Regions from separate parts of the Homo sapiens genome. Here region 1 is linked to region 2. The links come from fine-mapping of genetic effects on gene expression. A gene starts in region 2. The other region holds a variant in brackets. All regions are shown on one strand. Distances are between the middles of the regions.

Evidence for each region.
Region 1: its variant is fine-mapped to the expression of TAC3 in whole blood (INTERVAL, PIP 0.92).

What each region holds. Positions count from the first base shown.
Region 1 is chr12:56,935,596-56,950,915 of GRCh38, forward strand. It overlaps the pseudogene LOC100420982. Among named protein-coding and RNA genes, the nearest start is that of SDR9C7, 8.8 kb to the left of the region's middle. The variant CTTT/C (reference allele first, on the strand shown) is at 8,356.
Region 2 is chr12:57,009,166-57,024,485 of GRCh38, forward strand. TAC3 (tachykinin precursor 3) reads right to left here and starts at 7,364. Exons shown (of 7, transcript NM_013251.4): 1 at 7,222-7,364; 2 at 6,519-6,637; 3 at 4,413-4,506; 4 at 4,194-4,223; 5 at 3,657-3,710; 6 at 3,213-3,287; 7 at 835-1,123. The coding sequence starts at 6,632. The coding sequence ends at 3,214.

The DNA of each region.
Region 1 (15,320 bases), 74 kb before region 2:
CCTGGGAAAGCCCCGCAGGGTTTGGCCGTTCCTTAACAAAGTAGGGGAGGGGGCCAGATTATGAACCCACCCCCAAAGAGCAGACCTAAAGCTTATAGGGGATGGAGGTGGGAAATGGTAGAAAGCAAACCACACCTACTTCATAACCAACCTGAGGCAGAGCACCTCCTATGCGGGATCTGGGAACAATCTCCCAGTCTCTGTCTGCCTCCTGGGTGAATGAACAGAGAAGTCTTGGCTGAAACAGGTCAGACCATGTCACTCAAGACTGAGCAGGTCCGGGGCATTGGGTATCCCAGTCCTTGAGGACACAGGTGAGGTCCAGGAGTTGGGTCTGACTTAGCATAAGGATAACTCAGAACTGCCCCAGCACAGGCCTGGGCCTGACTCAGCACCTCCTGGGCCTCTATGCTGGCAGTGTTCCCCTGGCCTCAAACTAAACACACAGTCCATGAGGGTGGGGGGTGTGAGGGAGGTAGGACCACATAGAAGGCTCTTCTTCCCAGGGCTAGAAATGCCTCCCTCTCTCAGATGACAGCATTCCTTGCCAAGCTGGCCCCTAAGGTCTGATAGGTCAGGTTGGTAGCTGCACTCCCCATCCCCACCCCATGCACACAGGTATCTCAGAGGAGAGGAGCCCTCTCCTCTGCCAGGCCATTTCCCTCCAGTGGGAGAGCATAGACTGCTGAGGTCCAAGACACACCCTGATGAGGTAGACAGGAGGAAGAGCAGGTGTGGGCTCACCCACCCCCAGTTGCTCAAGACCTTCCACAAGTGTGGATTCTTCAGGTTGACAGGTGGGCCATGAAGCTCAGAGCCCAAGGAAGTGGGATGCCATTATCTGTGATTGGGTCTCCCTTCCTAAGCAGCAAAATGTGGTTCTTTCCTCCTAATATCACCAGAGTCCTGAATAACGTCCCAGAAAAAAACTAGAACAGAGGTGAGGGAAGTGAGGTACATGACCCTGAACTTGAGAGCTCCCTCCCACCACTCTATTTCTCACCCCATGAAACAGCACCCCTCCCAAGTGCAATGATGTTAAAGTGAGGGCCGGTCACTGAGTGCTACAAAGAGGTCGCTACAAAGTGCTACAAAGAGGCCTGCCAGTGCCTTTGTGACATGTCATTGCTTCCTTGTCCCTCTGTGCACTCCTGTGACCCCAGGCTACTTGATTCACTCCTGGAAAGGAAACAATTGCCCCTCACCTTGGTGGCAGAAAGGGCTGAGACAGGGCAGGGATAATCCAACTTCTCTCTTCAATTTCCTCCTGAGTTCATCCCTCTTATCCCCAGATCCCCATGAAGGCACCTGCCTCCTCCTCCCTCTTGTTCACAGCCCATGCTCCCCTCAGACTAGAAGGCAACTTGCTGCACATGGCTGCACTTTTTAGCTTTTGCTCTAGAACTAAAGTAACCAGATGGTTTTTTGAGGGTCATGGTTTCAAGAGGGTCAAACATTGGTTCCTGTGTCCTCTGTCCGAATCCCTATTGAGAACACCACTGCCAGCCAATGGTTTTAAGAGGGTCAAACATTGGTTCCTGTGTCCTCTGTCAGAATCCCTATCGAGAACACCACTGCCAGCCAATGCCCCCAGAGCTGGCACCTGAGGTCTAGGGGTCAGGCTGATGGCTGCCCTGTCGCCCCACACCTTATCCACAGGTATATTCAGAGGAGCCCCCATCCACTTCCTCCAGGCCATTTCCATCATGGAGAGAGTGTAATAGACTGGCCAGGTTGATGCACACCTGGGGAAGAAGCAGGAGGCAGAGAAGGTGTGGGCTGTGGATCCTTCCCCTCCTCACACGCTCCCATTGTGTAGACTCCTCAGAATTGGCCAAGAGACTCAAAGGCAACAGGACACCTATGAGCGTTACTGGGTCCCAATCTTTAGAAGAACACCTTGGTTCTTTCCTCCTATGTTGCCAGTCCTGAGTGATATCTCAGTGGAATTCTGTGGAGGGCATGAGGAAGAAGCTGGGATAGGCATCCAAATGGCAAGAGTGCTCCCTCCCACCACACCATTACTCTCCCCAAGACACATCACCTCACCCAGATCACCCAGCTCCACCCAACCATGCACCCCAGTCTTGGATTCACAGGGGCTTAGCCAGCCTTGGAGAGCCCCAGTTGAGCGTGACGTCCATAGGAAGGTAGGCATGTCGCTCATGGGGAGGTAGAGAAGATTGGTGTCTCAGCCAGCTGAGTAGTGAGCGCTCCATGCAGTGGGTCAACAAGGATAGATTCGTACTGCATTTTGCCCAAAGCCTTCTAGATGCTTTTCTGATGCATGTTAAGGATGAGGAAAGATCCTTAAAGTACTAGCACATCCCTTCCCTCCCATTTAGAGCTCTGAATTAGGAGGACAGTGTCTAAGAATTCCAGGCCCCCCAAATGATATGCCTCAAGTCTAATCCATCCATATTCCCCAGAGAGTGCCCCAACCTTCACCCAAGGAACATCCGTTTCACTCTAAGCCCCCTCTGCCTCTCTTTTTGAGATATCTGGACTCATAAATGGAAGGTCTCTACTAACAGCCTAAGAATATGAAAATCAGCTATCTCTAAACCCAGCTGCCCATGAGCCCACTGGTAGCCACTGTCTCTGACTTTAGTTTCCTCTTCAAAATAATGAGGGATTCAGATGAGGCAGTGGTCCCAATTATAGAAAGCTTGGATGCTTCCTTTAGGTGAACAGTTGACCACATGGCACCCTGGGAATGGGGATAAATGTCCTCACTTTTTTGGGGAGGCAGAGTTTGGAGGACAGATTCTCATACTGTTGGAGGCACTAATGATGGACCCAGACTTCTAGACAAGGATTTCTTTATCTCCCCACTGTCCACAGCTCACTCACGGGATATCAGAAACTTCTCCCCATACGTCTCCTTGACCTCGGGGCTGGCCTAGTCCGACAGCTCCTTGAGGTTCTGTAAATGCCTCTCAGAGCCGGCCATACTGGTCCTGAAGTGACCAGGTTCAATCACAGACACCTTCACTCCAAAGTGGGAGAGCTCCCTCCTGCATGGCAGACATGCAGAAGGGCAAGGACTTAAGAAATTTTGGGAGGCAAAATACAAAAAACAAAGAAACCCAATACAAACCCAGCATGCAACGACAGTGGGAGATGCAAGAAAGCTTGGAGAGTTGGGAAGGGCAGCAGATAGCAGATAAAAGTTATGATGGTGGCCTTGCCTCTCTCTGGGGTTTCCATATTTTACATACCAAAGCTTACTAGCCCTAAGTCCTACCAATTCAAGAGCAAGGCAGCATCTCAGTGCTATCACCTCCTATGCCCCTCACATCCAATGGATCACCAGAATTCCCACATTCTACCTCCTCTGCAGTCCTCAGTCCCCTCCCTTCTTCTCCTGCCCCAGGAATCTCCCTGGCCTCTGAGCTGGGTGATGGCAGCTGTCCTCTAAGGAGCGTCCCTCTGCCTTCAGTCTGGCTCCCCACACTCACAGCCACTGGGCTCCCTGCAGTAAGTGGGTGTCTAGAAGCCGATTAGACCAAAGAGCTCCCCTGAGCAAATCCCTTCTTTGGGGGTTCCACTGCCAACAGCATGAGGCACAGCTCCTGTCCAGGGCCTCCACGAGCCCATATGAACCCACCTGCCCAGCCTCCTCCACAGGCCTGGCCCTGTGCTTCACCTCATGAGGACCCCACAGCACAGGCAGGCAGCTGAGGCTCCCCCTAGGTCTGGGCTGAAGACAAAAGTCATTCCCCCATTTCTGTTCAAGGCTGCCAGGTGGGGATCCTCAATCTCCAGCTCAGATCCCACTGCCAGGACCCTCCCCAGCTTAGGAGGCTGCCATGGCCACCAGGGCTGACTGGGTCACAACCCCTATGAGAACTGGCAACAATGGTTCTGGCTCTCTTGCTCCTCTCTCAGGTGTCAGAGCTTTTAGGTCAGGGCCAAAACCCTGTTGTTGTCCTAGGCTGAGTTTATTGGGTACTCTTCCAAGGGCCACAAGAGTATATTGTATGGACTCAGATGCTCTCCCCATGCCTCCAGGACCCAACAAATATCTCTCCAAGGGAGAGAGACAGAGACAGGAAAACAGGAAGACAGGAATGGGGTAAGACAGAGAAACCAAGGGGAAAGGACAGAAGAGAAAGGAAAATGGAAGGAAAGAATAAGAAAAACACATAAATAATTGCTTTCTGCATCCTGGTTAAGAGAGATACACTTAAATCCTAAGACTGGGGGAAGTTAGAGAGCAGGCCTGCACTGGGCATCAGGGGACAAGCTGTGCTACAACCTGCATCAATGTCAAGGCAATATCTGTCCTGGAAGAAAAGGTCACCTTGTGTACCTGGGAGTCCCAAAGCTCACTGTGGACTGAATGGCCAGAGCAGGAGGGGAGGAAGGAAAGAGGTCTCATGCCACACAGGTGTCCAGACTGCACTCTCTGCCCCAGGAAGTACCACCTTTTCCTCCCACCATCTCATAAGGCCACCTCTGCCCTATCCCCATAGGGTCCAGCAAGCTTTGGGGAAGACTCTACAGAAGACATAGGGGAGCAAACTAATAGCATGAAAGATCTGGAGCAGTCAGAGCTACAGAACTACGGACTCCAGGCCAGCAGGGGCAGGGGTGTGAGTGGGTGAGGGCTGGGGGGTACAGGAGACGGAGACTGACCCTAGGAATATTGGAAAAACAATAAGGCCTGCAATGGTGGCCCTTCCCCTACTCAGAAACCTTTCCTGGACTTGAAGGAATGAGGATTCTTTGATTCAATAGTTGTACTTTTCTTGAATAGCACTGCTAAGCCTGTCAACAAACCTTGGTAGAGAATCGCTACTGAGATGTTATTTATGCCAGGAAAAGTGGGTAACAAACTTCGGCATTCAACAATATAGAATCCCTTTAACAAATTATGGCCTCTCCACATGCTGGAATATGGAGACCTTGATTGTTATGTTGGGGAAGAAACTTGATGATGAAAATGCTGACCCCAGAATGTGTAAAGTAGAGGGAAATTAACCCTGGAGGCTGGGATTAGGGGGAATGTTGTTTCACTCTCATCCTCTTCTATGATTTCTCCAATGAGAAATCCTATCTTATCCTCCTATCTATCCAATCTTATCCTCTTCTATAATTTCTTCATGTTTTCCATTTACAATCAGAACAAAGCAATCAATGATCTCCCTTTCCCCAAAAGGAACAGGATTCATCACTCGGTGTTTGATGTGAAGTCCCTTCAGCTCTCCAAGCCCCAGTGTCCTCGTGAATCAAGCGGAGATCATCTTAAAGCCCTCAACAGGGACAAGTGTGAAGGAACCAGTAAGAGAATGCTGAGATCAGAAGCCTGGATCCTGCCCAGCCCCATCCCCGATGGTCTCATGCCAACCGTCAGGACCCAACGTTATCCAGAGACTGGGCTCTAACCACAGCCTGGACTCCTCTAACCCTGGGCCCAGCCACAACCACTCTAGGACTTCTGCTTTGGAAAGCAGAAAGCTCAAGCCCCCGAAAATAAAAGTCCTGGAAATGTTCCCAGTTAGCAGACACTAGGTCTCCCCTAGTGACACAGAGAGAAGAGAAACAAACAGGCACTAGGAGGGATTGAGGTGGTCCCTCTGTCCCCCACACACTCCTTCACCCACTGGGCAGCTGCAGCAATGCTCTCTGTCTTGGTGATGTCCATGGTCACCGTCTCCAGCCTGTCTGAAGTCTGGCCCCTCAGCTGCTTGGTCCCCTTCTCTGTCCTACATGCAGCTCCCGCAAGCCTGTGCATTCAGTTGTCTGGCCAGTAGCTTCCTGAAGCGTGAGTCACAGCTCATGATGAACACTATGTGTCTCTCAGCTGGCTCACCACCTGCCTCTCCCAGTATGAGCACAGAAGGTAGTACAGGCCCTGGAGGACCACCAGGTAGAGCCACATGGCTTTGCAGAGGACAGACCCAGGTAGGCTGGGGTGAAATGAGAGTCTGGCCTCTGTTCAGACAGGAGGATTTAAGAACACAGAGGGCTGAGGTAGGCAGAGAAGCCCTCAGGCATTTTGGCAGAAAGTCTTCACTTTCCTCCCTGATCACTGTCTTTCTGCAACATTTTTTTTTATCCTGGCTTCATCTCTCTACTATTTTGAACTGCCTTTGCAAGTACTCATGCATGCAGTTGCAAACCCCAAGTCCTGCCCAGTAGGAAACTACTATGACTCAGCAATGCTTCCCTAGTCCACAAATTTCTCTCTGCATTGCTGTGCCCACACAGATGTTTATGTGGGTGCAAACGTGTATTGACACAGGCTTACACACAGCAGCCCCCACACACTCTCCATAGCAAACACACCCCTCTGCTCTAAGTACAAGGGTCAGAACTGTCTCTACAAAGCTGCTGTACTGACACTTCTGGTCCATGACCTTCTGAGCACAGAAAGACCTTATTGGGAAGCTACATATGGTTTCCAGCCACATTAGGTGGAAATCCCTCTCTGAGCCTGAGATTCCTCATCCCGCTCAGCACCCAGAATCAATCACTCCTCAGAAAACTGGGTCATGGTCAGGCTGTCTAGGATGAGAAGGAGAAGCCGAAAGAGTGGACAGGAACAGATCGTCTCCTGCTATAATAGTTTTTTGGGGCAGAAGGAGTGAAGGATCCCATGGGGGCACTGTGGAAGTCCTTCCATTCCCCCTCCCAGCAGCCCTGGGTGTTTCCTTCCTGTGGGTTCCAAGTCTCCATTCCTTTCCCTGCCACTGGAGGAGGGGGTGTGTTGGGATATGGTGGAGGACCTGAGAGATGGCACAGGAAAAGTGCAATGACTTTTAAGTGAGGGTCAGTCACTGAGGGCCACAGAAGGCACAGGTGAGGGGGAGAGGACTCAGTTGTCCCAGGGAAGGGACCTGGGGCCTGTCAGTGCCTATTGACATCTCCTTGCTGGCTCGTCCTTAGGTCTATTTCTGTGACCTGAGGTTACTCCAGCATCCATGGAAAGAAAACAATTCCTCCTCATCTCGGTGGCAAGAATGGCTGGGAGAAGGCAGGGATAACTTTCCTCTTCAAATCCATTCTCAGGTCATGCCTCTCATCCCTGGCCTCCAGGAAGGCACCTGCCTCTTCCTGCCACTGCTCTCTAAGGCCACCCAAAATGTGGAAGCTACTTTGGAACTGGGTAACAGGCAAAGGTTGGAACAGTTTGGAGGGCTCAGAAGAAGACAGGAAAATGTGGGAAAATTTGGAACTTTCTAGAGACTTGTTGAATGGCTTTGACCAAAATGCTGATAATGACATTGACAATGAAATCCAGGCTGAGGTTCTCTCAGATGGAGATGAGGAACTTGTTGGGAACTGGAGCAAAGGTGATTCATTACATTTTAGCAGAGAGACTGGCAGTATTTTGCCCCTGCCCTAGAGATCTGTGGAACTCTGAACTTGAGAGAGATGATTTAGGGTATCTGGCAGAAGAAATTTCTAAGCAGCAAAGCATTCAAGAGGTGATTTGGGTGCTGTTAAGGCATTCAGTTTTAAAAGAGAAAAAGATCATAAAAGTTCACAAAATTTGCAGCCTGACAATGCAATAGAAAAGAAAATCTCATTTTCTGAGGAGAAATCCAAGCTGGCTACAGAAATTTGCCTAAGGAAGAAGAAGCCAAATGTTAATCCCCAAGACAATGGGGAAAATGTCTCCAGGGCATGTCAGAGGTCTTCACGGAAGCCTCTCCCATCATAGGCCAGGAGGCCTAGGAGGAAAAAGTGGTCTCATGGGCCAGGCCCAGGGTCCCCGTGCTGTATGCAGCCTAGGGACTTGGTGCCCTGTATCCCAGCTGCTGCAGCCACAGCTGAAAGGGGCCAATGTAGAGCTCAGGCTGTGGCTTCAGAGGGTGCAAGCCTCAAGCCTTGGCAGCTTCCACATGGTGTTGAGCCTGCCAGTGCACAGAAGTCAAGAATTGGGGTTTGGGTACCTTTGCCTAGATTTCACAGCATGTATGCAAATGCCTGGATGTCCAGGCAGAAGTTTGCTGCAGGGGCAGGTCTCTCATGGAGAACCTCTGCTAGGACAGTGTGGAAGGGAAATGTGGGGTGCTGGGGCACTGCTTAGCAGAGCTGTGAGAAGAGGGCCACCATCCTCCAGACCCCAGAATGGTAGATCCACTGAGAGCTTGCAGTGTGCACCTGGAAAAGCCAGACAATCAACACCAGCCTAGATTACTTTTCTATGTCTGTAAAAAATGTCGTTGGTATTTTGATAATGATTTCATTGAATCTGTACATTGTTTTGGGTAGTATGGCCATTTTAATAATATTGTGTTGATTCTTCCAATCCATGAACATGGCTATTTTTCCAGTTTTTGGTGTCCTCTTCAATGTTTCTCCTCAGTGTTTTATAGTTTTCATTATAGAGATCTTTCACTT[CTTT/C]GATTAAGTTAATTCATACGTATTCAGTTTTATTTGTGGCTATTGTAAATGGGATTACTTTTTAAATTTCTTTTTCATGTTGTTCGTTGTTGGCATATAGAAATGCTACTGATTTTTTATGCTGATTTTGCATCTTACAACTTTACTGAATTTGTTTATAAGTTCTTATAGTTTCCTTGTGGAGTCTTTAGGGTTTTCCAAATATACGATGATATCGTCTACAAACAAAAATAATTTGCCTTCTTCCTTTTTAATTTGGATGCCCTTTATATCTTATTCTTGTCTAATTGCTTTAGCTAGGACTTCCAGTACAATGTTGAATAATAGTAGTGATGGTGGCCATCCTTGTCATGTTCCAGATCTTAGAAGAAAGGCTTTCAGTTTTTCCCCATTCAGTATGATACTAGCTGTTGGCCTGTTGTATATGGCTTTTATTATCTTGAGATTAGTGTGTTCCTTCTATCCCCAGTTTTTTGAGGGTTTTTATCATGACTAGATGTTGAATTGTATCAAATGCTTTTCAATATTGATTGAAATGATCATGTGGCTTTTATGCTTCATTCTGTTGATATGATATATTATATTGATTGATTTGGTATGTTGAATTATCCTTTCATGCAAGGGATAAATCCTATTCATCATGATGAACTATCTTTCTAATGTATTGTTGAATTTGGTTTGCTAGTATTTTGTTGAGAATTTTTGCATCAAAATTTATAAGAGATATTGGCCCATAGTCTTTTTCTGATGTGACTTTGTCTGGTTTTGGTATCAGTGTAATGCTGGCCACATAGAATGAGTTTGAAAGTATTCCCTCCTCATCTATTTTTTGGAATAGTTTGAGTATGATTGGTGTTAGTTATTCTTGAAATGTTTGGTAGAATTCAGCAGTGAGGCCATCAGGTCCCAGGCTTTTCTTTACTGGCAGACATTTTATTGCAGCTTCAATCTCATTACTTGTTATTGGTTTTAAATAATAAGGTTTTAAATTGCTTTCTGGCTCAATCTCAGTAGGTTGTATGCATCTAGGCATTTGTCTATTTATTCTAGATTTTCCAATTTATTTGCATATAATTGCTCCTAGTAGCCACTAGTGATCCTTTGAATTTCTGCAGTACCAGTTGTAATGTCTCCTTTTCCATTTCTGACTTTATTTATTTGGATCTTCTTCTATTTTTTTTGTATTTTTGCTTAGTCTGATTAAAGATTTGTCAATTTTGTTTAACTTTAAAATTGCAACTTTTTGTTTCATTGATCTTATGTTAAGTTTTTTTTTATTTCAATTTCATTTGTTTCTGCTCTGATCTTTATTATTTCTTTTCTTCGACTAATTTTGAGTTTGGTTTGCTCTTGCTTTTCTAGTTCTTTAAGATACATTGTTAGATTATTCATTTGAAGTTTTCCTTTTTTTTTCTTGATGTAGGCACTTATAGCGATAAATTTCCCTCTTAGTTCTGCTTTTGTTGTATCACATAGGTTTTGGTATGCTGGGTTTCTATTATCATTTGTTTTTAGAAATTTTTCAATTTTCTTCTTAATTTCTTCATTGACCCACACTGGTCTCTCAGGAGCATATTTTAAAATTTCTATGTATTTGTGTAGTTTCCAAAATTATTATTCTTATTTCCAGTTTCATTCTATTGTGGTCAGAGAAGATGTTTGATATTATTTCATTTTTTTCAATGTTTTAAGACTTCTTTTGTGATCTAACATGGGGTCTATCTTTGAGAATGATCCATGTGCTGAGGAAAAGAATGTGTATTCTGCAGCCATTGGAAGAGATGTTCTGTAAATATCTATTGGATCCATTTGGTCTACAGTGCAGATTCATTCTGATGTTTCCCTGTTGATTCTTCTGTCTGGAAGATCTGTCCAATGCTGAAAGTGGAGTGTTGGAGTCTCCAGCTATTATTGCATTGGGACCTATTTCTCTCTTTAACTCTAATAGTATTCCCTTTATCTATCTGGGTGCTTCTGTGTTGGGTGCATATATTACATATTTAAAATTATTCTTTTATCCTCTTGCTGAATTGACCCCTTTACCATTATATAGTGACCTTCTTTGAAATCTATTTTATCTGAGATAAAACTCCTGCTCTTTTTGGTTTCCATTGGCAAGAAATATCTTTTTCCATCCCTTTATTTTCAGTCTATGTTTGTCTTCATAGGTGAAGTGTTTCTTCTGCAGGCAACAGATCAATGGGTCTTGGTTTTTCATCCATTCAGCCAGTCTATGTCTTTTGATTGGTCAGTCTAGGATACTTACATTCAATGTTATTATTGATGGGTAAGGACTTACTCCTACCATTTTGTTATTTGTTTTCTGGTTGTTTTATGAACTTCCTTTCCTTCTTTCTTTCCTTCTTGTTTTTTTCTAGTGAAGATGTTCTTCTCTGGAGATATGATTTAGTTTCTTGCTTTTTATTTTTTGTGCATCCATCGTATGTTTTTTGGCTTGAGATTACCATGAGGCTTGCAAATACTATCTTATAACCCATTATTTTAACCTGATAACAACTTAACATTATTTGCATAAACAAACAAGCTCAAAGAAAATTAATAAAAACTCTACACCTTAACTTTGTTCCCCAACTTTTTAACTTTTTGTTGTTTCTGTTTATAGCTTATTGTACTGACTATGTCTTGAAAAGTTGTTTCAGTTACTTTTTTTGATTAGTTCATCATTTAATCTTTCTACTTAGCATAAGAGTAGTTTACACACCACAGTTACAATGTCATAATATTCTGTGTTTTTCTGGGTACTTGCTACTACCGGTGAGGTTTGTACCTTCAGGTACTATGTATTGCTCATTAATGTCCTTTTCTTTCTTACTAAAGTACTCCCTTTAGCACTTCTTGTACAATGGTACAAGCTTTTGTTTGTCCAGGAATGTCTTTCTTTCTCCTTTACGCTTGAAGGACATTTTCACCACATATACTATTATACTATTATAGGCTAAAAGATTTTTTCTTTAGCACTTTAAATATATTATGCCACTCTCTCCTGGCCTGTAAGGTTTCCACTGAAAATCTGGTGCCAGATGTGTTGGAGCTCCATTGTATGTTATTCATTTCTTTCCTCTTGCTGCTTTTAGGGTCCTTTCTCTACCCTTGGCCTTTGGGAGTTTGATTACTATCTTTGGGTTAAATCTGCTTGGTGTTCTATTACCTTCCTGTACTTCCATACTGATATCTTTCTCTAGGTTTGGGAAGTCCTCTGTTATTATCCCTTTGAATAAACTTTCTACCCCATATTCTCTTTCTCTACCTCCTCATTAAGGCCCATAACTCTTAGAATCGCCCTTTTAAGTCTGTTTTCTAGATCCTGAAGGCATGCTTCATTGCTTTTTATTATTTTTTCTTTTATCTCCTCTATGTGTTTTCAACTGGCCTGTCTTCAGGTTCACTAATTCTTTCTTCTGCTTTATCAATTCTGCTGTTAAGGGACTCTGATGCATTCTTGAATATGCCAATTGCATTTTTCAGCTCCAGAATTTCTGTATGATTCTTTTTAATTATTTCAAACTCTTTGTTAAAATTTTCTGATAGAATTCTAAATTTCTTCTCTATATTACCTTGAATTTCCTTGAGTTTCCTCAACACAGCTATTTTAAATTTTCTGTTTGAAAGGCCCCATATCTGTTTCTCCAGGATTGGTCCCTGGTCCCTTATTTAGTTCATTTGGCATGGCCGTGTTTTCCTGCATGGTTTTGATGCTAGTAGATGTTCTTTGGTATCTGGGCATTGAAGAGTTATGTATTTATTGTAGTCTTCACTGTCTGGGCTTATTTGTAGTCATCCTTCTTGTAAGACTTACCAAATATTTGGAAAGACTTCAGTGTTGTGATCTAATCCGTATCTGCTCTAGGGGGCACCCCACACCCAGTAATTCTATGGTTCTTGCAGAACCTCGTAGATGTACCACCCTGATGTTTGGGACAAGATCTGAGAGAATTCTCTGGATTATCAGGCAGAGACTCTTGTTCTCTTCCCTTACTTTCTCCCATACATACAGAGTAACTCTGTGTGTGTTTGTTCTGAGATAGCTAAAGCTGGGGGTGGAGTGACACAAGCACCCCTGTGTCACCACCACTATGACTGCATTGGGTCAGACGTGAAGCCACCACAGTGCTGGGTCTCACTCAAGGCCTGTTGTAAGGCCCTGGCTACTGCCTATGTTTGCTCAAGCCCAAGGGCTCTACAATCAGCAGATAACAAAGCTAGTTAGGCCTGTGTCCTTCTGTCAGAGCAGTGATGTCCCCCAGTCTCCGTGTGGTTCCAGAAGTGCTGTGCAGGAATCAAGGACTAGAGTCAAAAACCTTAGAAATGTACCTGGTGTCCTGTTGGATTGCAGCTGAGCTGGCACTCACTCCACACAACAAATCCTTCCTGCTTTTCTCTTCCTTGTCCAAAGACAGAGGAGCCTGACCTCATAGTCACCACCACCCCAAGCCACATGGAGTACCGCTAGACTCCCATCAATATTCCCTTAAAGCCCAAGATCTCTTAAGTCAGCTTGTGGTGAATGCTGCCTGGCCTGGGACACACCATTCATGTCAGTGGGCTCCCCATTGGCCCAGGGTGGGTCCAGAAAGTGCCATCCAAGAGTCAAGTCCTGGAATCACAAACCACAATAGTCTGCTTGGTGCTCCACTCCACTGTGGCCATGCTGGCACCTAAGGTGCAAGACAAAGTCTCCTTTACTTTTCCTTCCACTTTTCTCAAACAGAAGGTGTCTCTCTCCATAGCCACCACAGCTGGGAATGTCCTGAGTCTCACCTGAAGCCAGCAAGTCTCAGAGGCTCACCCAAGGTCCTCAGTGTAGTAACTGCCCATCAGTGCTGGTTATTTGGGGCCCAAGGTCTCCTCAGATAGAAGGTGATGAATGCTGCCAGCACTGGGTCCTTTCTTTGAAAGCACTGGGTTGCCTTCTGGCCCAGGGTCTGTCTAGAAATGTCATATGGGAGCTAGGGATTGAAATGAGGGCCTCCTGACTCTGATCATTGCCCTATCTTGCTGTGGCTGAGCTGGTATCCAAGATGCATGATAAAATCCTCCCCACTCTTCTTCTCTCTCCTCTCCTCAAGTGGAAGAAAGGGGTCTCCTTTGGAACATCAAGCTGTGCAGCCTGGGGTTAGGGGAGGGGTGATACAAACATTCCCCTTTGCTGCCCCAGCTTGCGTCTCAATATGTCATGTGTCCCCCTAATCCAGTGCCTCTGGGCCTAGTTCTGCACTACCCCTAGCCTATGAGGGGCAGTCCTTATGGCCTAGACTGCCTTTCAAGTTTACTTGGAGACACAGAGCATTGTAGCCCTTGGTGGCGAGGTTTGCGGGCACTCAAGTTAGGTTTGCTGTGATCAGAGACTCCCCTGTGGCACTAGGCCTCACCTATGAGTTGCAGTTCTTATGGCCTAGACTGCCATGTAAGTTTATTTGGAGACATGGAGCATTGTAGCCCTTGGTATCGAGGTTTGTGGGCACTCAGGACTGCTGGGATCGGTGATTCCCCTGTAGCTAGGGCTGGTTTAAATGCTCCCTCCATGGATGGGCATCAGCTGACTTTGGTCTGGTTTTTCTTCCTGCTCTAACAGGATAGCACTGAGTTCAGTGCCTCACAATTGCTGTGTTCTCCCTCCCGCAGCACCCAGAGATGCTCTCAGCACTGTGCCTCCACTGCCAGGGTTTGGAGAGCGGTAGGGTCTGTGATTCACGACTGTTTTTTTCTATCTCTTCAGTGCCTCTTTCAGCAATATGAGGTTAAAACCAGGTTAAAGAGTTATCATCACCTGATTATTGGTTCTTATGAAGGTGTTTTTTGATACGGAGACAATTGTTAACTTGGTGTCTTGGTGTGGGGTGGGGAAGAGAGAATGATCCGTGAAGCCTTCTACTCTGCCATTTATCTCCACCTGCTCCTCACTGTGTGTGTTTCATTTGCTTGTTTGTTTTATTTTGTTTTTTTTTTTTTGAGATGGGGGTCTCACTCTATCACCCAGGTTGGAGTGCAGTTGCACAATCTCAGCTCACTGCAACCTTCGTCTCCCAGGCTCAAGTGATCCACTTACCTCAGCCTCCCAAGTAGCTGTAACACAGGCATACACCAACACACCCAGCTAATTTTTTGTATTTTTAATAGAGACCGGGTTTCACCATATTGCCCAGGCTGGTCCCTAACTCCTGAGCTCAGGTAATCAACCCACCTCAGCCTACCAAAGTGCTAGGATTACGGGCATGAGTCACCATGCCTCATTGCGTGTTTTAAATTCAGTGGCCCTGCAACATCTGACCTCAATCTCTGTTTCTACAATAAATACTGATTTGTTAAACAACATGGGGCTTCCTAAAGGCTCCATATCCTAGACCTAGACTTTTATCCTGAAGAAAGAAAAATGAGAATCCTGGGGAGTTACCTCCCAACTACAATTTGTGTTGAGTCCAGGATTCTACACCCCTTTCCCCTAATGCTTTCTGTGTTGAGTCCACACTTGCGACATCATCAGAAAACTGAAGACATTGAGGATGAGGACCAGGTCATTCAAGGGAATTTCTCTCCAGTACACAGCAGGGGCTCAACAAAGGGAGAGAAAATATGAAAGATGAGTCCAGCAGTGACTCTCACTCCCTGTCACTGGAGGGGTGGGTGTGTTGGGATATGGTGGGGGACCTGAGGGATGACACAGGGAAAGTGCAATGACTTTAAAGTGAGGGTCCGTCACTAAGGGACACAGAGAGGGCACGGGTGAGGGGAGGAGGCTTCAGTTGCCCCAGGGAAGGGATCTGAGGCCTGCCTGTCAATATGGCTGTTGAGGTCGCCTTGCTGTCTTGTCCTTGGGTCTATTTCTGTGACCACAGGCTACTCCAGAACCCCCTGGAAAGAAAACAATTGCCCCTCACCTTGGTGGCAACAAGGGCTGGGAGAGGGCAGGGATAGTCCAACTTCTCTCTTCAAATCCATTCTCA
Region 2 (15,320 bases):
TCATCATTTCATCCCCAGGATCTGTCACAGAACCCAGGCTCAGCATTTGGAGACAAAAAAATTGTATAGGGTCATAGATTTGTCCTCCTCTGTGGCTGGGTCTCCGGACAGCCTTGATCCCCACCTCCTTCTCTAATTAAGTAGGGTCAGATTCAGGAATGAATATCTCCCAGACCCATCCTAGTAATACAAGTCATTCTGAATATTTTTTTTCTTTTTCTTTTTCTTTTTTTATTGTTTTTTTTGTTTGTTTGTTTTGTTTTGAGACGGAGTTTTTTGCTCTTGTTGCCCAGGCTGGAGTGCAGTGGCGTGATCTCGGCTCACTGCAACCCCTGCCTCCTGGGTTCAAACGATTCTCCTGCCTCAGCCTCCCAAGTAGCTGGAATTACAGGCATGCGCCACCATGCCTGGCTAATTTTTGTATTTTTAGTAGAGAAGGGGTTTCACCATGTTGGTCAGGCTGGTCTCGACCTCCTGACCTCGTGATCCACCCGCCTCGGCCTCCCAAAGTGCTGGGATTACAGGCGTGAGCCACCGGGCCCGGCCTGTTTTTTCTTTATCTAAAACTGGTCTGTAAAAATCTTTGTGTGTTAGAAACCATCTTCCAAATTCGTGTATTTATTTTAATCACTAAATAAATCTGATACTCATCGTGCAAAGCACTGTGTAAGGCACTGTTCAGGAAATAGATATATACAAAAAGATATGTAAAGTTATTTACATTTAAATATGAAGTGTGTGTATCATAAGTATGTGTGTATTTACCATGTAGCTGGAGGAGTCAAGGAACAGAAAAACCCACCAACCAAACAAGTAAACACACACACCACATCATTCATATGCAAAAATCCTTTATTGTTGAGGAATAGAGAGAGACATTATATTTTTAATGTAGGACACTACAGGAACTCTAGGGTATTCTACAGTCAATGCCCATTGGGGTTGGGGATATTCACTATGCAGTTTCCACACCAGGGTCAGGTAGAAAAGATGGAGAAGGAGTCAAAGCACAAGAATGTTACAAGAACAGGGAAGAGAAAGGGTAACAGGAGCGTGCGCACCTGGGGATTGGGACAGGGAAAGAGGTCTTCCTAATGCAGTCCAGGAGTCCGGAAGTGGAGTACTGAGGACAAAAAACAAAACAAAACAAAAAAAAACACTGAAATCACATCTTATATCCTGTAAAAAAGTCCCACTGAAAACCTGCTGTGGCAGCAGGAGAGAAGGGGAGAGGCGTCTGTGAGAGAGGAAAGAACAAGTCTTGACCCTCAGCCTGCCCTCCAGGCTTTGGGCCTGAGGATGGAACTCTCCTAGCCGCAGGTACTTGCACCTTCCCAGCTGCCATATTTACATTACTCTACACACCTGTGTGCATGGCCAGTGGGGCCCATGTGGACCAAAGATGTAGGAACCAAGTTCATGCCATCCTAGCACCACCATGAGCCAGACACACACACAGCCCTGCCCAAGGTGCCCTACTATGAATGCTCCCCCTGCCTTATCCAGTTCCTCCTCTTCCCAGAAACCTCCCAGAGGAAGCACAGGCCCAGGGATTACTTACAGTTTCACATGAATGAAATCAGATGACACAATGATCTGTGTTGATCCATCTCATCTAATCTTTAAATGCCAGCTCCCAGAAACCTTATGTCCTATTCTGCCTGACACCTAACAGGTTGGGAATGCTCCCTCAATGGTAAGATTATGAAAGCTGCAATTATGGGTCCCTCTGAAAGAGCCTGGATGCACAAACAAGCATTAAAAGTAGATTTCCACAATGCACTTGTTTTTGCCATTTGTATAAAATACTATAGCAAAATTGCACTGTAATTATCTTTATGGCCAGTGCATAACGCTGGAGCAGAGTATGTCATCCAGATATAGCTGCTCGTATAATTATCTGGCCGTCGGCAGGACTGAAATAACCATCTAATGAGAGCAAAATGATACAGTAACTACCATGTAATCAGCAAGTTACAGTTATTATAGCTCTTTGTGCCCTCTCACCCAACACTAAATGGGGGGCCAGACTCAGTCTCTGGTCCCAGGAATTCATGCACAGGCAGCATCATCAAGCACCAGCTCCTTGGGTCTTGGGCGTGCCACCTTGAGACCAGTGAGTATGGGTAACAGGGACACAGAGAGAAAAGCAGGAGGCTCTCCATGATTACGAGCCTTCCCAATCTCTCTCCCTCTCCTTTTCACTCCCTCCACCCCAATTCTTTGGAAGCTAGTGAAAAGAAAGCCATTGGTGGAGCTGCTCTTGCTGTGTGTGGGAAGACAGTGTCAAGGCGGAAGGTTCGTGTTTTGACTAGACACTTCCCTGGGGGACTCTTACACTCGCATACCAAGTGAGGAATTTGTCAGCCCACTCAGGCCTGGGGTCCAGACAGAGCCAGTCAGGGGAAACATTAGGACATCCCCCATACCTCCCAAACTGGGACAATTATCATAAAATTGGCACACAGCACTGTGCACCCGGCACTGTTCTGAACACTTTACCTATACTCAATCCTCAAAACCACAACCCTGTGAGATACTATTATCACTTTCATTTTTCAGATGAGGAAACTGAAGCACAGGAGGATATGTACCTTGGCCAAAAAGATACAGATAGAGTGGCAGATCCAGGATTCACATTCAGGCCATTGTTCTTATTCATTATGCTAAAGAGAGATTCAGATATGGTTTCCTGCTAATCCCCATTAGATTTCAGAGTTCCTTGCATTTCTTCCTGAATCATCCTTGTGTATGACTACCTTCTGGGCCCCGTAACCCAGGATTCTGAGTGATTTGAAAGGCTCAGCCTGCCTGGGAGGCAAATGCTTGCCTGTGAATTGGTTGTGGTATTTGTAATTATCAGATAATAATTTCTCCATCTTTTTGCATAGATTACAAAAGAATGAAGTCCAAACAACAGAAATTGCCCATCGGGGAAGCCCCTCTCTCCTCATCTCCCAACACTCACTCCTGCTCAATAGTCAGCTGCCGTCCATGATCCAGAGGAAAGAGATGAAAGACGGGGGATGTGTACAAACACACGTGCCTCTAAGTGTCTTTGTGTTTGGCCGACAGTGTGCTGGGCATTGGCAGTGTATTTCAGGGCAAATCTATGAGCTTTAATACCTGTAGCATGGGAGGAAATGCACAGCTGGCAACCCCCACAGCCCCCTCCCCAGTCCCCTCTCCCCTCTCTAATGAACAATCCTTACCCTATTCTGCTCTCGGGGGATACTTGAGGATGCCAAAGCTGGGGACGTTCTCTTGATTCACATCCGTAGGAGAGTCTAGGGTAAAGCGAACAGTGTAAGTAAGAGGGATCTTTCTGAATGTGAACTACACCCTGATCCAACAGCAAAGGGCTGGCTATGACGGGCAGTGTTCAAAGACAGAGTTGGGAGACTGGGGTGGAAGCAGAGTCTCCCTATCCTTCCTCCCAGCTGCAACAGGACTACCTTATAAAGGTCTCTGCTCCTCTGTTCCCAGGGAAGACTTTCCTGTGGATCCAAGCTGATTGGGATGAAGGGGCCGAGGAACCCTCACTGAAGGTAAGAAAGGTCCTGTCTTTCCCTCTGGTGACAAATATGAGGCACGTGACTTCTGTCATACTCTGCCAGTACCCTAAGCCCTTCCACTGTACCTCCACACACTCCTACCTGGCTGGACGCTCCTCTTGCCCATAAGTCCCACAAAGAAGTCATGCATGTCACCTGCAGAAAAGGGCCAACATTGTCAGCAGTGATGATGAGAAAGTGAAGCATCTCCCCAGACATGGGTCAACACTTCTGAGACTGGGTTTCTGGTCTCTGTTCCTTTTTCTTGTCAAAGCATGACTCCTCACAGTTAGCAAGTGCCTCCCCTAAACCCACTCTCTCTGCTCACCTTTCCTTCCTCCACATTTCAAGAATTTTCTGCTCTAGCAGGTGCCTGATTTGGAATTTTCAGGGCCACGAAGAGATCCCCTTGTTTTCCAAGGACCAGCCAGCAGAGGGAGAGCCCACCATGCCCCTCACACCAGCTTCCTCCTAGTTCTGGATGGCCTCTCCCTTTCAGGAAAGGTTGGCTGAGCAGTGGGAGCTGGCATATTGTTTGTACCAGGTGAGAAGGGGCTGGACAAAATGGCCCCTGGGCCCAATGCCCCACAGAGCTCTGGGCAAGTGGCAAGAGATAGGGAGGGAGAAGAGGGTACTTACGTTTCTCGGGAGATGTTGATTCCTTAGGATCTGTGAAACCAAGAACAGATGTCTAAATGGGGAGTGAAGTTGGAAAGTGATGAGAGCGGGGTTCAGATCACAACCCTCACCGATTCACTAAGCTATCCCCCATCTCTCTCCCATCTGAAAGGATCTCCCAGGCCTCTTATCTTCAGAATCCTGCCCCTCATTCCCCTCTCCCCTAGGGCCGCCTCCTACCTGTGCTAGCCTGGCTCAGGGCTTTGAGCAATCCCTCCAGAGATGAGTGGCTTTTGAAGAGTCTCTGGAGCAGCTGGTAGAGATCTGGATCCCTCTAGGGAAGAAACAAAGAGGGGTGAGGCAGGAGGCTCCCACCCGGATCCACTCATCCTTTTCCCACAAGAAACAGCCTCTTCCTGAGCCCATCCTGAATCCGACACCCTATTTCTTTCAGAGTTTCCTCTGGTTCACACTGGACGAGAAGTAGGTGCTCCAGGAGTGACCTGTGGACCAACAGCAACACCAGCACTACACAGAGCCTGTTAGAAATGCAGACTCTTGTTCCTACCCCAGACCTCCTGAGACAGAATCTGCATTTTAAGCAGCCCCCCAGGTGATTCACATGCATGGTGAGATTGGAGGCACACATCTGCACCTGTGATTCCCCCACTCTGCACGATGTCCATGGATGTTTCTCTCCCTGTTTTCCACCACCTCTTTCTCTATTCTCCATGGCTTTCCGCCTCTAGTTTTCTCTCCCTCTCCCTTTTGGCCCTAGGTCTAGAATTCCAGGAAGGCAACATGCTCAGAAGGCACGTCTTCTTCTCTCCACAACTGAATCCCAAGTTCTAGAGCTGTTGCCCAGCACGGGCTCTTGATTGTCCCTGTGATTTTTTTTTTTTTTTTAGCAACTTGCGTACAGCAGGGTGGTGGGCACACACCACACAGCCAGTTAATTGCAGCTGCAGAGAGACAATAACAATGATCATGGCTGGAGATTTTCATCTCAAATCTCAAGTCTCAGCAGCGCCTCTCTTTCCAGAACCCAGGCATCCTTCGGCTGTTGTGCACACACAGAAGTGCATTTACACAGAACACACCCCCACACATACCAACCCAGTTGCCTAGGCACACCTATGTACTACCCTCTTCCTGCCCCAATTTCCCTCATCCTCACAGACTCTCAAGGAGAAGGGGTAGGATGGCAATCCCTCTCATTCATTGACCAAGAGGGGCAGAGGGGACATCTCATTGGCCAAGGTCTTGAAACAAGTTTGTCTCAGAAGAACTCAGATACTCTAACTATCCTGGGCTGGAACTTTGTGGCTCCAAACGGTGTCCAGCCCATACTTGGCACTCCCCTGGGTGTTTTTTTTTTTAACGGTTCTGGCCTTTTGGATATGGCACAACTGCTGCCACCTGCAAGGCTGCCCTGGTGATAACTCCCTTGGCCCAGCATGTGGTGTTCAGGCAGCCACTTTTCCCAAATTGTTGAATACTCTGCCCACCTCCTATAATGAGATGCTGAACAGATTTGAGCTGAAGAGGCAGTTAAACTTCACACATTGAATTTGTAATAAGTCCCACCCGCAATCATCTTAAAAGCATTTGTACCGATGTAATTGCTGTCATTTCAAAACCTTGAAAAGACTTCCTCCCTATCCTCCCCCTGTACCCCTACCCTGACAATTCCTATTCTTTTTCGTAAAGGAACTGTGGAAATCGAGGCTCAATCTGGTTTTTTTGCTGTTGTTGTTTTCCTATCCTGACTAAGCAGAGGATAGAGGCGGGCAAGGGAGAAAAGAGAAGAAGGAAGGGGTTGGGATCTTAGAAGCACCTGAGGTTACTGGGGGTGGATGAGCAAAAGATAAGGGAATTTATTTGCATTTTGAAAATAAAACAATACACATAACTGATAGGTAAAATAGCACACAAATAACCATTTGGGAAAGAAATTCTGACTGTTTCATACCATCCAGGAAATAGAAGAGATCTGTCCCTTGCAAAGGGACCTGAGGTAGACTATAGAGAGCCTTAGACCACCCTAGCTCACCCCTCACAGTACCATCCAATCACCAAGTCTCCCATCAATCAACCCACCAAACAACATATTTGTAGGGCACCTTTTATGTACAAGGTGTCAAAGACATGCAGAGATACAGAGACACAAACACACCTGGAGACAGTGGGAACATGAAAGGACCAGAGAAACAAAGAAATCCAAAGGGAGGCAAAATGCCCTCTGACGGACAACCCCCCCACCCCAGTTTCCTCACTACAGCTGTCCAGACAGGCAGAGTCCCAAGTTCCCGTGATGTCCCCAGTACTCTGCCAGGGGAGACTTACCTTGCTGCGGCCCCCGCCAGGAACCACCTCCTCCTGTGGCTCCTTACAGACAGCCCCAAAGCTCTGAGCTAGGCTGAAGGCCAGGATGGCTGTGAATAGCAGCATGATCCTCATGGTGCCTGGGAGAGCAAAGGGACAGGACTCAGGTAAAGGAGAGAAGAGGAAGATACAGCATGGGTGAAGACACAAGAGACATTCATTACCAGCAGCTTGGCTTGACCCTGCTTCCCCAGCCCCCAACTCCACTGTCCAAGCCCTGGTCTGGAGAGAGGGTGGAAAGTATTTCTGAGAAGGGGGTACAGCCCTTGGGCTTAGTTTCCCTGCTACCCCATCAGATATCTCCCCAGGAGATGTGCAATGCTATAGTGGTGCCAGGAGGACTCTAGCTCCCAAGAAAGATGATAGATTTGTAGGACATGGACTGGTCTGTTTCCTCAGTCAGCTGGAGGAGGGATCCTGGATGCTATTTTCCAGTACTAGATAATCCCAAGACTTAGGCAAAAACTTTCTGGTATGAAAGAATGAGTCTGTAGCCACAGGCTCCAAACACCAACCAGCTCTCGGCCCTACAGGTGCTTTGTGCTCACCTTCCCAGTCCCCTGCTCCCCTATCAGAGGCTGCCATCTGCTTTATTCCCTCCTGACGCTGGCTCCTGTCCCCTGGTGCCAGCTCTGGTCCATCCAGCATTCTCCCACTTGCCTACCTGTGGAGCAGCTCTGTGCCGGGGGCTGGGTGGTCTGGCAGGATCAAGGAACTGGCTAGGACCGCTGCCTGCTCCCCTCACACACTGGTGCTGCCGGTGCTCCTGCAAAGAGAGAAACCGAGTGGAGGGGATCTAGGAAGGCTGCAGTCACTCAGTCCCAGCTCCCTGATAAAGGCTCTGGGAGGGTCTAGGGGAGCTGAGGGGAGGGGCTGAGAGTCACCAATCCCAGGGTGGCTGGAGGGGAGGCGGGGAGGCTGTAGGGGGGAGGAGGATGCAGACAGTAGCCACACACCCAGACACACACATACCCCACAGACCCAGCAGTGAGACCATTTCCTAACAGCACCCGAGCTGGCTGCTGTGTATGGTTTGTGTACAGTTTGACACTGCTGGGGCTTAGAGGACAATACTCCAAAATGAAGGCCTCAATAGCCGCCTCAGAAGCAGAAGTTTTTCTCTGACCCTCTCTTGTCCTCTTGTCACTCGGTTCCATTCTCCCCCAAGACCAGCTATAAAAACCAGAACCCCTTTGCCCCAAAGCCAGCCATAAAACCTAAAATTACTCTATGTAAAAACTGGCCAAAAAAATTATCTGACCGGCCGAGTGCAGTGGCTCACGCTTGTAATCCCAGCACTTTGGGAGGCCGAGGCGGGCGGATCACGAGGTCAAGAGATCGAGACCATCCTGGCCAACATGGTGAAACGCTGTCTCTACTAAAAATACAAAAATTAGCTGGTCATGGTGGCGCGTGCCTGTAATCCTAGCTACTCGGGAGGCTGAGCCGAGATTGCACCACTGCACTCCAGCCTGGTGGCAGAGCAAGACTCCATCTAAAAAAAAAAAAAAATTCAGAAAAGATGACACTCACCCCTTTTTTGGGGTCTCCTACTTTCGTTGTGGAGTTTCACGAGTCATGGGCAGATTCTTCTCAGGTCTAAAGCTCTGCTCTCTTCTACACTACATTACCTAATCTCTTTGGTTTTTGAGGATGCCAAAAATAAATTACTTTGTATTATTTAAAAAACTAGACATATAGCTAGTCATATATAATAACTAGATAAAAAATACAGTTTTAGAGATGACTTATGACAGTTATTCACAACAAAGTATTACTACTATACAGGGCTACTTATTTCTTCGTGCATTTAAATTTTTAAAAACATGGTCTGGGGCACCTAAAGACAATGAAAGCACTCACCATTGAGGATGAAACTCCCATTAAAAATAGGCTAAGCACGCCAGGCATGGTGGCTCACGCCTGTAATCCCAGCACTTTGGGAGGCCGAGGCGGGCGGATCACTTGGGGTCAGAAGTTCGAGACCAGCCTGGCCAACATGTTGAAACCCCATCTCTACTAAAAATACAAAAAATTAGCTGAGCATAGTGGCTGGTGCCTGTAATCTCAGCTACTTGGGAGGCTGAGGCAGGAGAATCGCTTGAACCCACGAGACAGAGATTGCATTGAGCCGAGATCACGCCATTGCACTCCAGCCTGGGCAACAGAGCAAGACTCCACCTCAAAAAAAAAAAAAAAAAAAAGACTAAGCACAGAGTGGGCTAATCGGCACTGGGCTGCCTGCCAGCCTTGGGGGAGCATCTTTACAGTGGGGCACTCGATAAAAATGCCACACATCTCGTCCCATGACATTTCCCTCTTTTGGGGGGCCTAGGATTCAATATAAAAATGAGATCCTTGATTAGGGGGGTTCTGTATTCTGCCTTCCAGCTATGCCTGCTTTACCCATTTAAATATGAGGCCCTAAAACCTATGTTTTCTTCCCCCTTTTTATTAAAGGGCTCCACCCTAAAGGCAATAATCTAATTAAAAAACAAGCTAGTTAAAAAGCCCAAAATACAACTTCCTAAAAAAAAAAAAAAAAAAAAAAGGCCGGGCACAGTGGCTCACGCCTGTAATCCTAGCACTTTGGGAGGCCGAGGCAGGTGGATCACAAGGTCAGGAATTTGAGACCAGCCTGACCAACAAGGTGAAACCCTGTCTGTACTAAAAATACAAAAATTAGCTGGGCGTGGTGGCACACCCCTGTAATCCCAGCTACTCAGGAGGCTAAGGCAGGAGAATGGCTTGAACCCAGGGGGCGGAGGTTTCAGTGAGCCAAGGTCACGCCACTGCACTCCAGCCTGTTGACAGAGAGACTCCAGCTCAAAAAAAAAAAAAAAAAAAAAAAAAAAAATCTGACCTACGTTATTTGACTTAGGTCATAAAACCTCCATTCCAGAGAGGGTCCTGCCCCACACCAGAAGGAAGGAATGAGAGAGGCTAGGAGGAATCTCAACAGACAGGCCTTGCTGGGTTTCCCCACTCAGTCTGTTAACATTAGATCGTGCCCTTTCTGTCCAGTCATATTTCTACACAGCTGTCCATACTTTGTTAAACCTAAACATAAAAATAGACAATTTCCCCTATAGCTTCAAGGCTTCATTCTAAAGGCTCCCATTCGTATTTAATAAATTTGTATGCCTTTTTCCCTATTAATCTGCTTCATGTCAGTGATTTTCACTGAAACTTTAGGGGGCCAAGACCACAGTTTGGCATCACAAATAAGACCACCAAAGCTATTGTGCTTTTCTGGAAGCCACAGAGAAGGAAATACAGGAACCTGGCAAGCCAGCAGAGGAGTGAGAATTTCCTGCCAGACTCCCAGTTTTCCAGTTTTCCTCTCTCTGTGGACTCTGGATGAGTGGACAGTAAAAATCATTGTTTCCCTTTTCCTTTCCAAATGTAAGATTAATGAGAGAACAGGTTTTGTGTGTGACTAACCTTGGTATAGTGAGTCTGATATATTTTTTAGTACTTTGTGGTATAAGTATTCATAGTTTGACCCCATTCCCTTCAGAAATAGCTTTTGTTGTTGTTGTTGCCATTTTCCTTTCAGAAATAGCTTTTTTGTTGTTGCCGTTTTCCTTCGTTTTTGTCTTGTCTTTTGGTGTTCTGTCATAAGGAGGGGTACCCTAGGGTAGAACAGGCCTGCAACCCACTGTTTGAACTGGCCCTGCAAACTGGTCAGTTTCGTGGTTCTGGTTATGCTGACTTCTGTTATGACAAACTTTGCTGCCAGTCCCTGAAATAAAAACAGGGTGAGAGGTTTCCCTCTTGTCTCATGTCCTTGAGAGCATGACGTGACTAGATGGGGATATTCCCGCTTGGTCTCCACCATCCAAAGGATGTGATTTTTCAGGTAACATCACAGCCAGTATGAAAAGATTGGGAGCCCAACACATGTATTTTCAAACATTCCAAGCTCCTAGGGGAGTTTTGTCTTACAAGGTCTCATCCCTCCTGGGCTTCTGTTTTCTTTGACATAAAGAAAACTTTGGATTAAGTTGCTATTGGAATTAAATACCCCATTAAAAATTCTAATTGTCAATGGCCAAAAGATAAATCCTTTAGACTAAAATTCCTAAATTTAAAAAAATTACTTGTTCTAAAGAATTGATAGATCAAATTAAAAGGACACATAATAGTGTCACAGCTATCCTTAACAATTGTCTTGATTAAATTAAAGCACAAAAACCTGACCTAAAACAATTACACTCAAACTGCCACTTTGGATTCCATACAAAATTAACAATGGAGGCTGCTCCATTTTACAGTTTAATAATTAAAATTCCCACCGTGGCTTAGGGTTTCCTTCCTAATCAGAAATCAGTCCTTTTCGGCTTAATATTTATGTGACTTTTAAAATATCAGCATTTGTCCCAACTAAAATCTGGTAACAAGAGATTTAAGGTGAGTCGCAGTGGCTCACACCTGTAATCCTATCACTTGGGAGGCCGAGACAGGCAGATCACTTTAGCCCAGAAGTTGCCCGGACTTGAGACCAGCCTGGGTAACAGGGCGAAACCCCATCTCTACAAAAAGTTTTAAAGGAGGAGAGAGACAAATTTAAAAGAATTTTTGTTAAAGAGCTCCATGGTTAGAAGTCAGCTTAATTAAAAGCTAATATTCAAGCTATGTGTATATTTTTAAAGCCTTCTGTGTTTTCTCTTTAAATCCTATTTTAAAAAATTTTGTTCAGTAGACTAAAATCTTTTTTTTAAAATGTGTTTGATGTCTCTATTCACTTCCTTTCTTAAAAACTATCCTCCCATTTACTTTTACTCCACCCTATTCCTCCTTCCTCTTTGCCATCTTCAATACCACATTTTTAAAAAATCTAGAAAAGACTTCTAATGACTCAGACTCCTTAAAAAACTCAGAAAAGGCCAGGTGCAGTGGCTCATGCCTGTTATCCCAGCACTTTGGGAGGCCAAGGCGAGCGGATCACCTGAGGTTGGGAGTTCGAGATCAGCCTGGCCAGCATGGTGAAACTCGGTCTCTACTAAAAATACAAAAATTAGCTGGGCGTGGTGGCACACAGCTGTAATCCCCACTACTCAGGAGGTTGAGGTGGGAGAATCACTTGAAGCCGGGAGGCAGAGGTTGCAGTGAGCGGAGATCGTGCCACTGCACTCCAGCCTGGGCGACAGAGCGAGACTCTGGGTGACAGAGCAAGACTCCGTCTCAAAACAAAAACAACAACAAAAATTCCATTTGTAAAGGCATCTCCCTCTCTACACCCAAACCTCCAAAACCTTTTAGAATAGAAAAGACAATGGCTTAAAATTTAGATAACTTTACCTTTATTTAGATCTAAATTCTATGCCTTTGAAATATACATTTTCTACCTTATTTCATCTAAAAGTCATGTCTTAGAGATACAAGTTTAGAGTTGCCTAGTTAATAATTAAGACATAAAACAGATAATTTAAAAATTGATAGTCTGAAGTTGGGGAAAACTACCTAGAAACTGACAAATAAAAAATCTGGTCTGGCGTAGTGCCTCATGCCTGTAATTCCAACACTTTGGGAGGTCAAGTTAGGAAAATTTCTTGAGCCCAGGAGTTCAAGACCAGCCTGGGCAAGATGGTAAAACTCCCCATATCTACAAAAAATACACGAATTAGCCAGGCATGGTGGCACGCGCCTGTAGTCCCAGCTAGCCAGTCAGGTAGAAGGATTGCTTGAGCCTTGGAGGTCAAGGCTGCAGTGAGCTGTGATGGCACCACTGCACTCCAGCCTAGATGACAGAAGGAGAACCTGTCTCATTAAAAAAAAAAAAAAAAAAAAAAGTATAAATCTATAAGCTCTACTTCTGTTTATGTGTCTATATATTTATATGTGCCTGTGTATGTAATGTTCCATTATCAAAATATATAAAAGAGCTCTAATTAATTCAGTTAAAAAAATGCTTAAATCAAATATTTTATTAAAAAATAAAAACTTTAACTCAAATGTCTGTTTAATTCACATTACTTTGTAAACCAAAAGTAAAATCCTAAAGCTCCCTAACCATCCGAATGGACCACTCCTCACAGCCAAGGGTGTTCTAAAATTAACCTGAAAACTAGGTCAGGCCATGATGGGAAGGGGGAACCAGACCCTCCTCCCTTCTGGAATTAATGATAGAACAGACGTAGTCTGATAAGAAACATACATTCATTTATTCATATATTTTTATTTATTTATTTTTTGAGACAAAAATGCCTCTTACTAAATAACTGATTACTCATATCATATAGAGGCCTGGCTTTGGTGGAAGCCCATCTGCAACACACTGCCTAAAATTAGACACAACTAATAACTATTTAACTAGACTGGCCTATTCTCAGGACTAAGAGACTAGTTCCATGGCTTATAAGACAATTCACCAACTCAATTTCTGGACTATAAAATTTCTTTAAAATTTTTCACACCGAGGAATGCTGGGGCTCAGAAGACAATACCCTAAAATGAAGGCCTCAGTAGCAGCCTCAGAAGCAGAAGTTTTTCTCTGACCCTCTCCTGTCCTCCTGTTGCTGGGTCCCATTCTCCCCCAAGGCCAGCTATAAAAACCAGGACCTCTTTTCCCCAAAGCCAGCCATAAAACCTAAAATTACTGTATGTAAAAACTGGCCATAAAAAATTATCTGACCTACCTTATTTAACTTAGGTCCTAAGATCTCCCCATTCCAGAGAGGGTCCTGCCCCATACCCAGAAGGAAGGAATGAGAGAGGCCAGGAGGAATCTCAACAGGCCTTCCTGGGTTTCCCCACTCAGTCTGTTAACATTAGAGCATGCCCTTCTGTCCAGTCATATTTCTACACAGCTGTCCATACTTTGTAAAACATAAACATAAAATTGGCGATTTCAGGCTGGGGGCGGTGGCTCATGCCTATAATCCCAGCACTCTGGGAGGCCAAGGCGGGCGGATCACAAGGTCAGGAGTTCCAGACCAGCCTGGCCAGCATGGTGAAACCCTGTCTCTACTAAAAAATACAAAAAATTAGCCGGGCATGGTGGTGCGTGCCTGTAGTCACAGCTGCTCAGGAGGATGAGGCAGGAGAATTGCTTGAACCCAGCAGGCGGAGGTTGCAGTGAGCCGAGATCATGCCACTGCACTCTAGCCTGGCAGACACAGTGAGACTCCATCTCCAAAAAAAATAAATAAATAACTGGCAATTTCCCCTATATCTTTGGGTCTTCATTCTAAAGGTGCTCATATATACATATTAAATAAATTTATCTACCTTTTCTCCTATAAATCAATTACTCTCATGTCAGTGATTTTCAGCAAACTTTTAGGAGGCCAAGTGTCTTGGCCCTCACAACACCAATTCCCATGCCTGAGTCCAGCTCAGTAGATGTGGACCCTGGGCCTCTTTCCCCACCTTGTTCATCCACCAGCTCCTTGCCCTTTAACCTTCAGGCCTGACTTCTGGGCTAAAACAGTTTCAGGCAGGCGCCCCTCCCCACCCAGGACAACCAGACTCAGGCCCCTGAAGGTTAGAAGGTCAGTTTAGCATCCCCTCCAGTCCTCTCCTTTCCCCCTCCCAGAGGGAGCTGCGCCATTACATTGGTCCTCAAGAGTGTCACACCCCTCCTCTGCTTGGGCAAAGAAAGCTCCAGTGTCGGCCTTCCTCCACTCCTCACCAGTGGTCATGATGCCTCTCCCACCTCAATCCTTCTTGAACCCTGAATCAGCTGGACTTAGCTTCATTCTTCTAGAGTTCTTTTACACCTCCTGATGTAATCTCACAGAGGATGAACAGAACTCGATAGCTGTGCCACCCCTGCCCCCTCCCCGGCCTTGATTTTTTTTTTTTTTTTTTTTTTTGGAGACAGAGTCTCACACTGTTGCCCAGGTTGGAGTGCAATGGTTCAATCTCGGCTCACCGCAACCTCTGCCTCCCGGGTTCATGCAATTCTTCTGCCTCAGCCTCCCAAGTAGCTGGGATTACAGGTGCACACCACCATACCTGGCTAATTTTTTTGTATTTTTAGTAGAGACGGGGTTTCACTATGTTGGCCAGACTGGTCTCGAACTCCTGACCTCATGGTCTGCCCGCCTCAGCCTCCCAAAGTGTTGGGATTACAGGCATGAGCCACTGCCCCTGGCCTTGATCTCTTAATTGCTTCCCTTTTTCCTCAGAGTTACATTTTCCCCACTCTAATCTGTCTCCCTGCAGTTCAGGCATCTTCTTCTCTGACCTTTCAAGCCTCTTGTTCACACCACACACAGATGAGGGAGATTATCTGCTTATTTCTCACCCAAGGGAGAGAGCTCCAGGGGAGAGTCAGAACCAGGATCAGAGCCGAGAGCCAGAGCCAGATGCTGCTGCTGAATGAGACAGCGGAGATGCAAAAGCAAAGCCAGAGCCATCCGTCAGCCCAGTATTTGTAATGGGTGCAGGGTTTGAATGTTTGCAGGGTGCTTTGGCATGGAGCAGTCCATCTGGTTTTCATCACCATGACCATGTAAGTAGGAAATATTCTGATTTTCCAGATGAGAAAACAGGCTCAGAAGGTTCAGTCACTTGCTCCAGTACATATGGCTACTAATCAGTGAAGAACAGCCTCAAATCCAGGTTTGTCTCACCCCAGGTCTCCCACTCTTTTTACTGCACTGGCATAAACTTTGACCTGTGAGGGAACAGTTAACTGTCCCAGACGGAATGGGTGGCCCCCCTCTCCAAGAGACTTGAAGATTTGGGACCTTCTACTCTTCTACATTTTGAGTTTGGGAGAGAACCGTATCTTTATCTCATATTTACTACAAA